Homo sapiens: one gene and its partner. The protein of the gene in region 1 purifies or fractionates together with the protein of each later gene. This does not show direct contact. Each region holds a gene or a part of one and is shown on either strand. Other genes may lie near its edges.

The links. The genes of interacting proteins can lie anywhere in the genome.
Region 2: the proteins of ACRBP (region 1) and MYO5C purify together in Homo sapiens (affinity purification with mass spectrometry; one large-scale study listed by BioGRID and IntAct). This does not show direct contact.

The regions. Positions count from the first base shown.
Region 1 is NC_000012.12:6,637,575-6,641,003, forward strand, and holds the end of ACRBP (acrosin-binding protein precursor), read right to left. Parts: intron 2,949-3,429; coding exon 2,769-2,948; intron 2,654-2,768; coding exon 2,486-2,653; intron 1,464-2,485; coding exon 1,380-1,463; intron 831-1,379; coding exon 708-830; 3' UTR 501-707; downstream 1-500.
Region 2 is NC_000015.10:52,243,805-52,247,304, forward strand, and holds part of MYO5C (unconventional myosin-Vc), read right to left. Parts: intron 3,211-3,500; coding exon 3,113-3,210; intron 2,239-3,112; coding exon 2,152-2,238; intron 1,662-2,151; coding exon 1,550-1,661; intron 764-1,549; coding exon 552-763; intron 1-551. UniProt on the Homo sapiens protein: May be involved in transferrin trafficking. Likely to power actin-based membrane trafficking in many physiologically crucial tissues.

The sequences.
Region 1 (3,429 bases):
TGCACTCCAGCCTGGGTGACAGAGCGAGACCCTGTCTCAAACACAAAACAACAACAACAAAAACAACCCCAAGGTTTCCTGATCTAGGCTATAGTTCCTGGTTTTTCCCTTCCTGATTAAGTGCAAGGTGCACACTCCCTATACCCCAGGATTGGTCCCTTTGGAAAAGATCTCATCAGGCTTTGGCCTTTATCCTACAGAGGAACAATACTACACTCGCATCTGACATCACGGGGCTTAGGGCTTCAGAAATGAAGACAGGTGCCCACATGCCCACATCATCCCTAGGGCCCCAGCCTTCTTGGCCTTCCTCAGTTCACCTCCCTGGGTTCTCAGGTCTTCTGCTTCTCCTGGCAGATGGCTGCTTCCCTGAGCACCATTCCCATGAGATTCTCTCACCGGCAGGTGGATCCATAAAACCAGGGGTTGGGGACTGACTGCCACGGGGCAGGGTAGCAGTGCTGAGGATGGGGATCATAACCAGAACAGGCCACACAGGCTGAAGATCAACATTTTATGTAAAGTCATCTTTTAAGGAGGGCGCAGCTCCCACCGTGGCCCTCTCTGGGACTGTTGCTCCAACCCAAGGAAATGTGAGTAGGGGCCGAGTAACAGACCCAGAAGGGGCAGCCTGAAAGCAATGGGGTCTCAAAACAATAGAGAACGTGGGCAGGTTGGGCTGGGGTGTGGGCAGAATAGACGCCAGCTCATCCGAACTGGCCTAGAGTCAAGGTGCTGAACTCCTGGCTCCATCGAAGCACAACGTCCTCACTTTTGCCAGGGCTCAGCGCACTGTAAGTCTCATTCTGCAGACATCTCATGCGGGACACCTACACAGAGATTCAGTGCAGACGGTCTGTATCACAGAGCCAGGTGCCAGGAGTGGGGAGGAGGGGAGGTGTCAGAAGCCCAAAAGAACGAGAGGTGGGCAGGCATGGGCACAGGGCAGTAGAGGGAAGGAGGAAACTCAAATGTGGGTTTTTAAAGCCAGAGGAGACATCAAGCAGCCCAACCCCTTTCATGCAGAAACAGGCGGCTGAGGCTCAGAGGGGGAAGTGCCTCATCCCAGGCTACTTGGTGAGTAAGAAGAGGAGACAGACCGAGACCTCAACGTCCAAGTCCTGGCCCAGCCAAGGGTTCTTCCTGTGGTGCTCTTAGGACCCTCCTCTGTTATCCACCAGCTGCCTAGGAGGGCCTTGCTTCCGCCAGGACTGGAGGAATGGAGGAGAGCCTGCTGGTGGAGGCCTCTGCCCCAGAGATGCAAGCAGGAACCGCTTTCCACATCCTAGCTGCTCGCAGAGGGGGCCTCAGAATAGACCAGTTATGGTGACTGATTGAGGGGGTGCTGGGAGAAGGAGGGGCAGGGCAGGGGTGCTCACCTTCCGATTGCGGTTTCTCATCAGACACTGCTGGCTTTTGAAGGAACAGTAGTTTGGGTACTGGATATAGTCTGTGTCACAAATCTAAGCCAAGAGCCAGAGAGAGGGAAGAGGGTATCAGAAGCCTCACCAGGCAGCAGCACTCCAGGGAATATCTGCTAGGGCAGAGCCAGGGGCAGGGTGTGGCCCAAGACCCAGGTCTTCCACACACAGGCGGCCCCTCACTCCGCTTTCCCTCTGCCTTTCCCCTGCCGCTCTGTCACAGGTTGCTGGGAAGAAGCCAGGAGCCTGGGAGAGTATGAGGCTGCCAGTCAGCTTACTGGGAAAGTGGCTGAGGAAGCGGGAATGGGGCAGGACGGGGTAGATAAGGGTCCAGAACATGGGACAGGGACCCGATTAGTGGCCTGATGTCAAGGATTTTTCTGGTAATGGTAGATAAGGGAAGGGGGAAGTGAGTCACTGCCTTCTTTGGACCTCGCCTCCCCATTCCAGATCAAGGGGCCCAGGGACAAGAGCTGGACATGGGCCCCCCAGCTCAGCTACCAGCCCTTGCTTCAGCTGCCCTTACTTTTCCTTGCCTTGGTTTTCCCTGCTAACTACAGGAGGAGAGGCCTGGATCTAAAACAACAGGTCATTCCACAGGGGAGGTAACTCAGGGGAACGGGGAGCCAAGTTGATTTAATTGAGCAGGGAAGGCACTGGAAGAGCTGGGAAGCCCGTCAGGCTAAGGCCGGGAAGTCCTGGATCACAGGGTTGGGCAGTGGTGCACGTGTCACTCAGTCATTTCTTGTAGAGATGACTCTTTGATTGAGTAGGAAGTGACTTGATCACAGCCACCCAGCAAGTAACTGGCAGAGTTGGGACCAGAACCTCTAGCTCCTGTTTTCTCAGCCCTCTGGGTCCCCACTCCTTTGCCTGCTCTATTGGTGGAGGGTGGGGTGGGGTGCAATGGTCTCTTGGAGAGAGGCAGGAGATTCAGTGAGGACGGGTTCTCAGAAGCCAGGGGCCCAAGCCCCCTTCCACAAACTAGCGCTACTCACAGCAAGTAACTGGAAGGAATGGGGTGAGGGTAGGGATGGGGCTGAGCTTTGGGGAAAGGTTCTAACCTTGGTAGGGAAATCCCCATCCTGGAAGCTAAGGAACTCAGTCTGGAGCCACCCAGAGACTCGGACATCTTCACAGCCTTTCGTGGCAAGCCGGGCACACCAGAAGTCCATGTGGAGCCCACCGTACAAATCCAGCCCGTAAAAGCGGCCTGATTCTGGGGACCCTACCTGTGGCACAGGAGATAGGGGAGAGGTGCGTGCCCCTCCCCACCTGCTGGCCACCACCACCCCACCCCTGCCACCCAGTTCTGCCTTTCCCACTGCGGGCTGCCGGGCTAGATACCTGGTTGCCGATGGACAGGCTCTGGGAGGCAAGCAAGGGGCTGACAAAGGGAGTCTTGTGGGAGGTGTCGCATTGTTGCCGCTGCAGGCTGGCCTCTGAGTGGCACTGCTCCAGCTTCAAGGAGCAGAAGTCACAGAGGGCACAGGTAGACATGTGTCGCCGCCCAAGGCTGTCACAGACCTGGGGCAGGGGAATGGGTGAGGCTGAAGCTGAGAGTCAGCGGCCTGCCTTCTCCCATGCCTCAGCCCTCCAGGGTGGGCCCTGCAGAATGTCTTTGCATTTAGCCTCTTCCAAAAGCTTCTCTGGGTTTTCTACTTGGCCTCCTCCCCAAGGGTTCCTCAAGGACCTTGCCTCAGCTATTTCTTCACCCTCTTCCTGGATGATTTATCTACTCCTAGGTAATCATCTATCTGCGAGTGACACCCAAATCTTTATCACCAGCTCTGATCTCTCTCTTGGGCTCCAAATCCTCATTGCCAAGTGCCTGACAGATGTCTGTGATTGGGTGATCTTACAGATACCCCAACTTAGCCTATCTGAAAAGAACTCATAACCCTCCCCTGCCACCTCTGCTAATGATAATGCTAATATTTACAAAGAGGTGACCCAGTGCCAGCACTATGGCTACACATGCTCTCATTTCATTTAGTTTTCACGACAA
Region 2 (3,500 bases), on another chromosome or scaffold:
AGGTAGGATCAGCGCAGCTGGTGGACCACCCTCCCCTCAGCCCTTGGCTTGGCTGGGGCTGCTGTGGTCTTCCTGCTTAGGGGTTCTGTGATTGGTTTGCTGCCAGGCCTTGCAGGGACCCCCTCTGCCATGGTGCACCCCACCTGTTGCTGGCAGGCTGGTCGCTGGCTATTCTTGACATCTGTCCTTTGGATCTTCACTAGGGCCTTGCTGATCTTATGCATTTTCAGTTCCCATAGGAAAGGGGCCCCGGGCCTCTCCCTGAGCTTCCGGAACCCTGACTCTCCTTAGTAACACTCTCACCAGCGCTTCCTCCCTGCAGGGCCCTGGGTGTCGGCTCACCACACAGACACCAGGCAGAGCCAGCACTACCTGCCCCTGAGAGACGGACCTTTCTTGCCCTAATGCTCACGACCACAAAGGGGACCCATGCACGTCTGCACCCTGGGTCACAGGAGAAAGGTCCCTTGTCCTTGATGAGTCCTCCCCGCCGGAGATGATCAGCACAGAAAGCCCCACAGTTCCACATGTGTTCCTTGATTCCAACATACCTCACAGTTTGCTGACCCCGGAAGTACTGCTGGATTATCAGGGCGGCTCGTCTCTCTCGGAGGAATTTTTTCCTCTGGAGCCAGCCACGCATGTGCTTTTGTACCATAACACAACTCTGCCTCAGTTTATCCAATCGAAGTTTCTCTAAATAAGCCACTTGTCCTGCTCTGAAGAAAATTTTGGTTTTACCAAACTGGTACTGATTAGAATCCTGGAAGAGAAAAATGATATAGTTAGAATTAAAATCTGTCAGATTTTCTATAATACAGTATTTGGAAAAGAGCTTTAGGGATTCAAAGGTGCCAGAAATATTGTGATTTTGACATTTAAGGCAGAAAACTCACATCATGATCTAGAAATGTATACTTTGAGTTGTTTGTTTAAAATTACCCTGGAGGAAGAAATGGGACTTAGGCTGAGGAATCCATTTGTGGGTGAGAAGGGGAGTGAGTGTCATTTGCGGCGATTCTCAGTTGGGCTGCCAGAGAACTTCAGCCACTCTCTCGTGGTCTCCACATTGGAGTAGAAGAAACTGGGGAAGTTTGGTTTTCTGTCTCCATTTTGGGTTCTCTTCACCATCCCCTTTGCTGGACCTTATAACTCCCCATCTCTTTCCCATCACAACTCATCGCTGCAGCAATGATGTCAATCCACACAAGGCACCATGCCTGGAGCCCATGTGGCTTGGTGACAACCCCAGTTGACCATATCCTATAAGCCTGGTCCACAGAGGACTGGGTTAGATCGTGGGAGAGCTAAACAGGATACGAGGACACTGGGGAGGCCGGAGTTCGGATGTGGGTCCCTAACGGGGACTCATGGCCCACTGAGCACTCTGCTATGGTCTCTTCAGCAGACAAATGCTCAGGGCACATTTTCTTTCCTTTCAGGTGTTCATGATTACAGTCCTGAGCATTCAAGACAAAGATGAAACAGCATGTTTGGGAGATGTGCTTCCAGGAAGGAGACCATGATCCCAGGAGGTGGGGAAACTGACCTGGATGAGTCTGTGTAAAACCACCTTGCACACCTCCTTTTTATCGCTGAAGGAAAGCTCTTGCTTGGTCATGAGAATGCCGTAGCGACTGTAGAACTCGATGTATGTCCACCTGGAAAATCAAAGGGGATCAAAGCCAGGAGTGTCAGAGGAAGCACATTGTGTCTGGGGACTCCGCTGCCTTACCTGCCACTGTTGTCATAGGGCGGGGGTGGTGCAATCTGTCCTGAGGATAAAGGCACTGATCTTTGATACCCTGCCTGCCTGGGACACTACCAAGACCACCCTGAGCACTCCTGTCTGCCCCAGCAATTGTGCTCTTTCTCCCACTCAGCGTCTTCCCTAGTACACGGGGGAGGCGGTGGGGCCACCACCAGCAGCCGAGATGCAGTGATGGGGTGAGAAGGTGGTGTTGACCTCCGACCCCTACAAAGCCTATTTCTCAACCTCTTCTGGACTTCCACAGGGCAGTGGGAAAATCTTGGGGGCACTTTACAGAAGCCAAAAGTATGTGACAAAAATCATGGCAGCCATGTCCTTGGTTCTCAGCATAGCTCTGATGTCAGGTACTTTTCCCTCCAAGACAAGGACGGACAACATACCTGGAAGGGTAGCTCTGTGCACTAATGCGAATCGTTTCTAAAACGCCGCAGGCTCGCAGCTGCTGAACAATTCTTTTGGAGTCAAATCTTTAAAAAGACAATGATATTATGTGTTGAGGCATCGTAATTGCTCAACATGCCCATAAACAGGCACAGCAGACCTGGCTAGACTGTGACCCTATGCCAGGTACCCAGCAGATACTTAATAAGTTTCTATTGCATGACCAAGAAAAATAGCACCTCTGCAAAACAGTCCATAAAGATGCAGTGGGATATAGAGAAAGGAGCAGCTGACTCTGATGGAGGTGGCATTGAGAAGGCCATGGGGGAACTGGCCTTTGAGGTGAGCTTCAAACGACAACCAGGTGGAAAGAAATATGCTAGCTCGCCTGGCCCAAGCACCCACTGATGCTTGAATTTCCTCTACAGAACACCCAACAGGTAGCTCTGCAGCTTAGGTCTCACCCATCTGGTGACCCATACACACACTCACCACCTCCATAGACAGCTCATCCCCCTTTAGGCACCTCTTTCAGCTCTAGCAAGCTACAAGGGACTTGTTACACCTTATATTCACAAGCTTTGGGTCTCCTCCATGGGTCCCAGAGAACAAGAATAATGCCTCATGCCATCATGTCTGAGGACAAATGTTCTGACCTTCTATGACCTTCTACAAACACACATACTCATTCTTCTTTTAATCAAGTAAAAGGTTCAAGTTGCAAAAACTTTAGTTGTAGAAGATTCTTTCAAATCTAGCCCTTTTGCTTAGCCCTGGAGATGAGGGGGTTTAACCAGAGGGGCTGAGCTAACATTTTATGTAAAGGGCAGCATTGTTCTGAATCATTAAAAAAAAACCCAGAAACAGGGTAATCTCAAGACAATTGGAAGCAAATTCTCCAACTTTATGGCAGAAACTGCCTTCCCACGTCTTCGCTGTGTGTTGCATAAGAACACTTACTCAAAGGGTAACTTCTCATCATTTGGCTTGATGCATCGAACGTAGTGGGGCGTCGTCGCATTGAGGGTCTCCATGAGCAAGTACAGAGAGCTGCGGAACTAGGAAACAAAGCTAGAGATCAAACATGGCTCTGAAATAATTTACTGCTTACATCACGGTAAAAAGCAGCCCAACCTTGTTAAGTTACTCAATAGGAAGAAAAGTTAACCTCATGCATAAACACCTATTATGAAAGGTTTCAGTCCGTGACTGTGGTTTATCAGCATGTCCTACTGTTGTGGACAGAACACTAATACTCCCAGACAGCAGAGAACTGAATAAACCATGTTATTGTGCAAGAGCGTGGTTTGCTCCAGTGCGTGCTGCCTTGGAGGTGGAAGTATGACGA